2 linked regions of the Homo sapiens genome follow. The protein of the gene in region 1 purifies or fractionates together with the protein of each later gene. This does not show direct contact. Each region holds a gene or a part of one and is shown on either strand. Other genes may lie near its edges.

Region 1 (6,045 bases):
AGCCCACAGAGGCAGAAATCACAGAGGCTGAGATCCCAGTGACGTTGCTCACAGGGAGGTGGCCGGAGTTCAGGAGTCTGAGGAGCAGAAAGTCGACCTCAGTCTCCCCATTCAAATGTGAGTTCAGATACACTTTATTTGTTCCCCAGTCTGGGTCTTTACATTTTAGCATCTGACCAGTACTTTTCTCCAGATCCAGAAAGGGGAATCGGAGAAGGGGGACATCATGACATTTTGCAACGCCTCTAGCACTGCAAACAGAGATGAGCTGTAATTTATTCATTAATTCCTCTGTGCCATGAACTCTGCCTTTTTCATCTTAAAATTATCTGTATTGGGCACATTGTCTGGTATTTTAGATGATGTCTTGAACTCCAATTTGATTGAAGATTTAACACAAAGTCAGAAATCACTCCCCAGGGGCCTGTTCTTCCTGCATCTTTTGCTGGTGGCTGTGATCTTCGGAAGCAAGTGGATAAACGGGAGCATGTGAAATGCGAATCTCCACGAGGCGTTATTTGTAGCTAAATATTCTATTCAATGGGTAAGATGGTTTTGAGAAATCCTAGTTTACAACAGTTTATGAAATCATGAATTTTTTTTCTCTATTTAACGTGAAACTCCCACACCCAAACTAAGGGGACTATATTTTCCATAAATGGGAATTCTGTCTTAATCACTTGCTGGTAAAAGAGAGATCCACTCCCTTCCCTTGGACCCTTAGAAAATGTGTGACTTATTTGTAAATGTTCCTGATATTGAAATACATCAGTACGTTCCCTGTCCCCCCATGTCAGAAATATATGTATTCCTCCATCCATTTTGAATCACCTTGAACACAGTAACAGTAATGGATGTTAAGAAAAAAAAAGGTATTAGGAAACAGCCTCCCAGGGAAGTAAAGAAGGAAGCAGTATCAGCTGGAGACGTTAACATCTCCAGAGAACTATTTTCCCCATTTGCCTTAGTAATTGGATTTACTTGATTTTCTCTTTAGAGCATGGAGAAGTTAGCCCTGTCAGGGAATCATATGATAGTTTACTTTTCATAAGACAGATCCATTCTTCAGTTGTCCCCTTCTTCCCTACTCCTTCCTGCTTAGCTAATACAACAGCAATATGAAGAACCTTCCCATTCACAGAGGGTGTGTCCAAAAGCATCTGTGAGTCCCCAATTCATTGAACACTAGTATATAACAATCTCCAAAGCACGACATTCTTAGCCTTTTCAGTCTTGTTGATAGCTTTCTAACTGAGGGCATTTCACAAGGAAAGAACATTTTCACGTCTCAGTTTCTGCATAGATGGGATTGGGTAGAGAAAAACCAATGCCCTGAGATACAGATGCCGGACGTCAGCTGGGCTCATTCATGCAGCAATTGGTTTGCTCTTGCGCACCAGCCTTAGGTAGCACAAATGTGTGTCTCAGCAAAATTGCTAAAGACTGCATGTCATGGATTCCAAATAATCCTCAAGAACAGTCAAAACTGTGCAAATTAAATTTGGGAAAATATTTTAACACTAAGCTTGAAGACTCCAGAACCACTTATTTTTAAATCAATCAGGGTAGAGGACTAAGCATTAGGAATTACCTTGATGATTCAAAAGGATTTCCTCAACTGTCACAAAGCTTACCACAAATTAATATATCTCTGCCTCTTGAGACCCTGTGTCTTTCCCCAGATATTCACCTGCTACTTTGAGCAGCAAGCTTGTTTCTCCACAGTAGTTCCCATCCTGGAAATGGCACCAGTATTGTCCATTGTCGGAGGGCTGGATGTTGTGTATCTTCAGTGCCACATTTCCCTTTGCAATGCCATTCTCTATCCACTCTACCCAGCCTCTGTACTCCTCCATCTGCATCTCAGTCACCTCCACTCCATCCCTGTGCACAAACACAGGTGTGCTGGGCTCTGAGCGGTACCACCTCACCTCCACGTGCATTGTGGTCCTCTTGGGGAGTAGCTGGCAGGTTAACAGGGCATCTTCCCCAACCCCGGCCAGGATAGGATGAGCAGGGCCAATGACTCTAAAGTCTTCTATAAAATAAGTGAAAAAGAGGAACGAGGAAATGCCAATCAGAAAATCATATGCATGCTTTGGGGTGTCCAGCCTGTCAAAATGGAGGCAACTAGAAGAGGGAGAGATATATGTTTAATGTTTTAGAGAAATCCAGCATGATGATTTGCACATCTGTTTGTTACAGAGTCAATTTTGTGTACTGAAAACAAATGCAGTTCAAAAATGTGGGTGAGGTTGCTGTCTGTCACCTACCAGCTATGTGATTCGGTGGCAAATCTATTACTCTTGGTAAGATTTTGAGATTTGAAGTCCTAATTTCTTCATCTTCAAGATATTAATACCAGCATACCTGGGTTGTTTTTATTCTCAAGTAAATTATTTATTCCTTGAGTCATTTATTCTCATGTAAATTGACTTTTTAAATTGGAAACCTTATTCTTGTTATTAACATTTTATTTTCCTGAAGTTTAGATAATAAATCCATTTATTAGCTTTTTTTAGCCTTTCAGGATTCCTCTTCTCTTAGATATAAAAACTGTTTTTTTTTTGTTTTTTTTTTGTTTGTTTTTTTCCCGTCTGGAGTTGGCAGGAGGCCAATTACTGGGACTATGTACAATGCAGTTTTCACAAGGACATTTTGTGCTGGATTAAGGACACTGGTTTGTCTAGAGATTTTTGGGTCTTCCAAACAAATTCTAAGACATGTCTGATCTCTTCCTTGTTATCTGCAAATTGAAGAGATGTTTAACAGTTATGTATGTTATTATGTTTGATCATTTTATGTCATGTATGATATGTTCTTTCTCATTCTAAATGCTCCGGGGCCATTTGCTCTTTCTCTGTGCAGATCCAATCCTGCTAGGAAGAACCTCACCCTACTTAGCTGCTGCTGGGTATCAAATAGATGCTGCTCAAAAGGTGGCTAAAGAGCCTAAGTGGAGATCTGCTTGTATTCTTCATTGATGAAGTCTAAATATGAAGCTAGAACTGAAGACATTCCATCAGATTGACTGTTACAGGGTAGGGAGCTGCAGCACAAGCACAGAGAAGCCAGCAGCTTCATCACATCACACCAGCTCTGCAGCGCCAAGGCAGACACACCAGCTCTGCGGCACCGAGGCAGACACACCAGCTCTGCGGTGCCGAGGCAGAGCCTGCGCCCTCTGATGCTCTGTGTCGTGTTTTTTCCCACTTCGCCATGCTGCATTTTCCTTAGGGCTCTGACATCTCCTTCTGACACTGATTTTTTTTTTTTGACACTGAATTTTTAAATAATTATTTTTCAAGGTGCAACATTTTGACGTCAAAATTCAGCTAGTGAGATTTCCAAAGTCCCTTTCTTCTAATTTCTTATTTCCAAGTATTTTTTTTAATTGCAGCTTAATTTATGATAAGAAGCAGCTGCATTTCTTGACCCCAAAGTACTAGAGTGAATTAATAATTTAACGTGGTGCAACCACTGATTCAAGTGCTTTTAATGTCTCATTTAATCCTAAAGCCTGTGCTGGCCTCTGAGATGTAGTTACTGCTGTTATTCTCATTAAAAAGATGAAAGAACTAAGGTATGAGGTGCTCAAGTAACTTTCCAAAGGTGACTCAGCTAGGAGTGGAGGAGCTCCTGGGAGTGGAGGAGCTCCTCAAAAGTGAGGAGTTCCTTTTTGGATACAGGTGGCTTGGCCCCAGACTTACACTCTTAGATGTTGTTCTCGACCTTTGGACCCAGACTAGCTCACTGGGACATTAGACTATACAGTAAAGGGAGAAGGGAATCCTACCTGACTGCTTCATTGTCAGCAGGATGAATAGGAAGGAGGCGACTGCACCAGACAGATTGTAGCCTGGAAAATCCACCATCCTCCCTGGAACAAAGACAAGGAAACGCTGTGCCTAAGTGAGGCTGTGACACACCCGGCACACTCCATGGCTTCCATTGGTTATGCAGTCTTAGCAGAGAATCCACATCAACCCCTGCACAGTCAGTGAAATGGGCTTGGCTCCATTTCTCTGCAATTACTGATCACATCCAACCCTTTACCTAACGTGTTATATTGTGAGACAATGTAGCAAATGTAAGAAGCCTTGCTTGCTCATTTCGGCTTGCTAGCATACTTTCACAAAGCCCCTGCTGTGATGACCTGCAGTTCTCCAGAAAGATGCTTCAAAGACAAAACAAGATTGAGCACACGGCCTCCCATCTCTCTTGCCTGAGTCACTCTACTCCTTAAAAGATAAGCAATAATAGTCCTTGCCTTTTCCTACACATAAGATAACGTCTGATTGAAGGATACCTCTGTAACCTATAACCAGATCTGCTCATACACCCAAACGTTGATGTAGTTCGGCTTCAATGTAGCTTCTGAGCTAATTTGATGTAGTGGTTAATATGTAACCTCCTGACATCGAAAAGGATATGGATTTGTTTCTGAATCATAAAGTTTTACTGATTGTTTTGTGCATGAAATATTTTAGTCTATATATTGTCATCTGTGTCCAATGATTGTAACCTCTGTATTGTACCCTCCAGTGAAAAAAGACAACTCCAATATGAAGAGCCCCTTTCTTTCTGCCTGAACTTCCTTACAAAAGCCTTCCAACTTGTAACAGACTTTGGACCACCCTCAACTTCGTTGGTGTGTCTTCCTACATCAGTCCTGACATTTGCCTTCCAATAGAACTTTATGAAATTATTCCTGCCTCAGCAACCCTAATTTCATGAGACAATATTTTAAGCAATTTTTTAGGTGTAAGGAAGTCTTGTGACTGAAATGAAAAAACACTTGAGGTAAAGGAACAATAATATTAAAAAAACCCCAAACCAAACCAAAGCAAACAAAACTCCTTAGGTTCATCTGTTGTGAGCTTGCAAAACTTATAGAGCAAGATTCAAATATTTTTTCCTGTCCTCCTCCCAACTCCTCCTGCAAAGCCTTTCTTTACCACTGTTTTCTACACATGGAGGAAAGGGCAGGAAGGCTCTGCGTCTCCACACTGCAGCCAGAAAGCCAACATTCAGTGCTAGCGCTCAGAGAACCCGGGACACAGAGATGCCGTGGAAAGTGAAAGAAAGAGTAGTAGAAAGATAGTCGGGAAAATATCTGTAAGTGGCCTTTTAGAATAGACTTAAAAACACGAATGAATTAAAAAAACAAAAAGCCCAACTGGCAGAAACTGGCAAACCCAGCAACCCCACTGTCCCAGCTGAACAAAAATACTTCACACAGCTAAAAACTTTAAAACTTACCAGGACAAGGATAGAAGGCTAGTTTTACCATTGAAAAATACAAACTTCAGAGTGAAAGAAGTCTAAGACTTATTATATGTGATGTGTCAAGTATTTTATTGAAAGAAAACTTGCTTCACACAAAGTAGAGAAACCAGCTCAGGAGCAATGTCAAGTCAATTACAGTTTCCCCCTTTCCAAGAAACTACTGCTAGTAAGATTTTATGGGACAGGGGTAAAAATCAACATTCTGAAATGGAGATTTAACAATCAAATGAGTCAGGAGATTGTTGTTACACAAATATTGCCCATTTGCTTTATAAAAAATATGTACTTTCATATAAGATATCTCTAAGGAAACTTATATGAGCCCATTCACAATACCTAGATCGAAAAGGGCAGTATGATATTTATGTGAAAATGGGGTTGGGTGTTAGAAGACAGTGCAGACCATGAGCACCTTGCCACCTGAAACTTACCAGTCACCTCCCCTTAGACTGAAGGGTGTTGCTGATGCCTCCCTGACTCCTTTTGTGAAAAGCAGGAACATTTTTTTCCACCAAGTAAGAGTAAAGAAAGCCCCACAACATCCATACCAAGCATGATTTCTCAGCCTTGTGAACTAAAATGAACTCACACTTGCTACAGACCACTTCAGAGGCTTGCGTTCCTGTAGGTCTTTCATGTCAAAGCGGTGGGAGGGAAAATCTACAAGTGAACTCTCAAAAAAATTGCTCAAATCAATGAAGCTTTCGAAGAATGTTGGGAGAATCCATCTCCAGTGCTCAGATAGACTGTGAGAGA
Region 2 (3,745 bases), on another chromosome or scaffold:
TTTATAAGAATTTTAACTGTTAACATGTAATTAATTTATTATTTTTAATATTTAAATTAATATATAATTTAAACTTTCCTTAGTTTTAAACATTAACAAGTAACATAGATAAATATAACCTAGATAAATAAAAGATCTTTGGGATTTTCAACAATATTTAACACTGTTAACAGTATTCAACAATATTTAACAATATGTAATAATGTCAAGCATTGGTCTTGAGACCAAAGCTTTTGAGAACCTCTACCCTAATCCATGAGGGATAGAGGAAGGAAGAGAAAATTAATCTGAAGATTTAAGACTTAAGAATCAAATAAAATACCTGATAAACATCTATTACTATATTTTAAGATTAAGGATTATAAATATAGTAAATAAGGACACAGAAACTGCTATAAGAATTTAGATGAATAATGCTTCAGGGAGGAGGTAATAGTTGAATAACTAAGTGAATGAATTACTAAGCTAGGGTATTGCAGTAGAAAGAGACAGAATATAGATTTAAAACAATCTTGGAGGTAAAAACATGCTTTAGGAAGTGATGTGATTCAGGGGGGCCAAGAGACATCAAATACAATTTGGAGACCATGACTCCAAGGTGACAATAGAAAATGATTAATAGAGAAAGAATATATAAATATCTTTTTAACTAGAAAACATAGAATGGAAAATATGTTTAGAAGAAAAGAAGACAAGTTAAATTTTAGATTTATTACATCATAAGTACCTGTCAGACATCCAAATCAAGATTTCTAGCAGTTGATTAAAAATGGGAAACCAGAGATTAGAGAGACATAAACTGTCTTTTCATCTATGTAAGAGGTAGAATGTAGATGAGATTGTTGAAAAGATAACAAATTTCTGCATATATTTAAAAGGTTCACTTTTCATATTTGACATTTTGTTTTAATACTGTAAATATGTTTATATCAGGAAATCTGATTGTATGAAACAAACAATTCAGAAAAGAATGAATTAGCAGTTCAAAACCAGCATACTCCAAGGTTATTTAGTGATCTCTATTAACATACATAAAATAATAATGTTTCTAAAATGAGATTCACAACATACTTTTCAAAAACACATCTACAGGAGTTATACAGGTACTATTGAATAGCCACGTTATAATCAGGTTTTATTAATGTTTATGTTACCTCTCTGTCTAGCTGAGATGATGTTGTGGTGATCACGCCTGTAGTTGGATGCATAGAAAATAGGGTGGGTGATGGTGGCACCTGCCCAATGATGGAGTACTTCAGGCGTGTGTGCATCGTGTCAGGCTCATCTTTGTCAGTAGCACACACTTGTCCCACAGTAGTGCCTAGAGAAGAAAAGTCCTTTTTAATCTCCAAAACATTCACATGTTCTATGTTCCCTTTATTTCATTCCTTTTCACCCACCTCAAAAAAGTTCTGGACCACATTATTACATGGCAAAGTCATGGCTTTTATAAATTTGCAGACCTCTCCATACAGTATCACTTCCTTTCAAATATTCTGGCATACTAGCATTTTCGAATTGGGTGATCATATTCATATTTATTGTATTTAATGTATGATTTTATAAATGTTGATACTATCCCTCCATGTATTTTCAGACTAAACAATTCTGATTATTCTATAACTTTTCTCTGTTTGTAAGCTTGTGCTTAGATTGATCATAGGAGTCAGTTTTCTCTAAAACTGCATGGTTCACTTAGACATTTCTAGACAAGGTCTCCAAAACTGCATTCTGACTTTTAGTTAAAACAGACCATTTTCACAGGGCTGAGAAAATGTTTGTATTATTCTCAGTGACTTTCATAATCGTGCCCAGAATACTGGCAATCACATTTAATCCTAGAGAACATCCGTACATATCTTTAAGACTACATCTCCAATTAGTGAAAGACTTATTCTTTTTGGGCTATGTTCTCTTACATCCATCCATCCATAGGATGACAGCATAACATTTATTAACTCCTATTTGTCAGGCACTGTGCTTGGCATTCGCTGTGTATTGAGCTTCACTTCATCTTCATAACAATCTGGCATACTGATAACCCATTTTACAGATGAAGAAATTAGGCTTGCCAAGATTAGGAAATTTGCCAAGCATCACACAGCTAGTGAAACACAGAGTAAAATTCCACCCAGAGTCCCTTATTCTTGCTGCTGGGATACGCTGCTTCTCAACGGACATAGTGAAACTAAATGTATGAATTGAAACACAGTTAATTTGCCATATATTGTTTAAGGAGGTACTCACCCACTCTGCAATTTTCAAAAATTGTAAAAGTATAAGTTTCTTCTGTAAAAATTGGGTAGTTATCATTTTCATCCTCTATTTTGATTATTAGGGGCAGTGGAAGTTCTGGAGTATACCCATCTGGAGTTGTTGCAAAGGCAATTATCTGTGAAGAGAGTAAAATAAGGAGAAAAGTGAAAATAATCTTTTAAAATGAGGTATGCTTCAAATTCATTTTGGCTTTAACTTGGAGACTGTTCAGAACTACAGTATGAGTCTCACCATTTGTTATTGTTCTGGGATATGGATATAATTTTAATGCCAAAGAGGTGCCTAATTTCATGATTCAATATGGCATTGTATGTTTAAATTTATCTCTTTAAATTTATGAAAGATAATTTTAGTTTCTTCATTATTGCTATACTGTTATTCATGAGTGTAACAATTTTTACTGTTATTTTCCCAAACAGCCTTGAAGACTTCTTTATTTTGCTTTGTTTGAAAGGTTCAGGTGCATGGATTTTAAATACAACTTTCTGGATCTTTCTGAACTTGGGATCCTGTAGGATTACCCAGGTACAGTTAACTGGGATATTATCCTATTTTCTACTAATGAGGACTTTAGGCATATCAATGGTTACATTTGGGTAAGTCTTTTCAAAGAATTTTTAATTTAAAAAGGGTGAATCAGAAATGAAACAAATGAATGGTGGTAAACTGTGGTGGAATACAGTTTAATTTTTTTGTTTTTATAATATGAATTTCAATACCAATTTTCTCATAACAGCTATCATAGAAAGGCCAGAACATCCTAGGTACTCAGAAGGCCAGGCCATGGCAATTCTAAACCTAAATACTTTATTCAAAGCTTGCCTGTCTTATTTGATTAATTTGGTCTTCTAATGAATAATTAATTCATCCAAAATAGACATAAAATAATTAAAACTGACTTAAGCAAAATGACCAAGTCCTGTTGGGAAATCAAACCAGCATTAGGTTAAATTCTTTCATATTAACTCACTTTCCAGCATAGGAAATTAACCAGATGATTAAAGGACTGAGTAAGCTTAGGTAAGCACTGTCACACCCCCTACCTGCTCCCCATAAACTAATGCTCTCCCATTGCCAGGGTACTGAGGTTTACTTAATGACTGAACTTCATTTACCTCCTATGATATCTCCATACTATAAAGAGGTTCACAGATCTTTTTGTGCCAACTAAGTAACTGTTCTTGGCCGGGCACGGTGGCTCAGTCCTGTAATCCCAGCACTTTGGGAGGCCGACATGGGCAGATCACCTGAGGTCAAGAGCTTGAGACCAGCCTGGCCAACATGGTGAAACCCCATCTCTACTAAAAATACAAAAAATTAGCTGGGTATCATGGTGCGTGCCTGTGATCCCAGCTACTCAGGAGGCTAAGGTGGGAGGATCACTTGAACCCCGGAGCCAGAGATTGCAGTGAGCCGAGATTACGCCACTGCACTTCAGCCTGGGTGGCAAAGTGAGATGCTGTCTCAA

Evidence for each region. The genes of interacting proteins can lie anywhere in the genome.
Region 2: the proteins of BTNL2 (region 1) and DSC2 purify together in Homo sapiens (affinity purification with mass spectrometry; one large-scale study listed by BioGRID and IntAct). This does not show direct contact.

The regions. Positions count from the first base shown.
Region 1 is NC_000006.12:32,403,249-32,409,293, forward strand, and holds the start of BTNL2 (butyrophilin-like protein 2 precursor), read right to left. Parts: upstream 3,934-6,045; 5' UTR 3,876-3,933; coding exon 3,797-3,875; exon of another isoform or gene 2,869-3,796; intron 2,310-2,868; exon of another isoform or gene 2,206-2,309; intron 2,039-2,205; coding exon 1,691-2,038; intron 1-1,690. UniProt on the Homo sapiens protein: Negative regulator of T-cell proliferation.
Region 2 is NC_000018.10:31,085,422-31,089,166, forward strand, and holds part of DSC2 (desmocollin-2 isoform Dsc2a preproprotein), read right to left. Parts: intron 2,393-3,745; coding exon 2,248-2,392; intron 1,322-2,247; coding exon 1,155-1,321; intron 1-1,154. UniProt on the Homo sapiens protein: A component of desmosome cell-cell junctions which are required for positive regulation of cellular adhesion.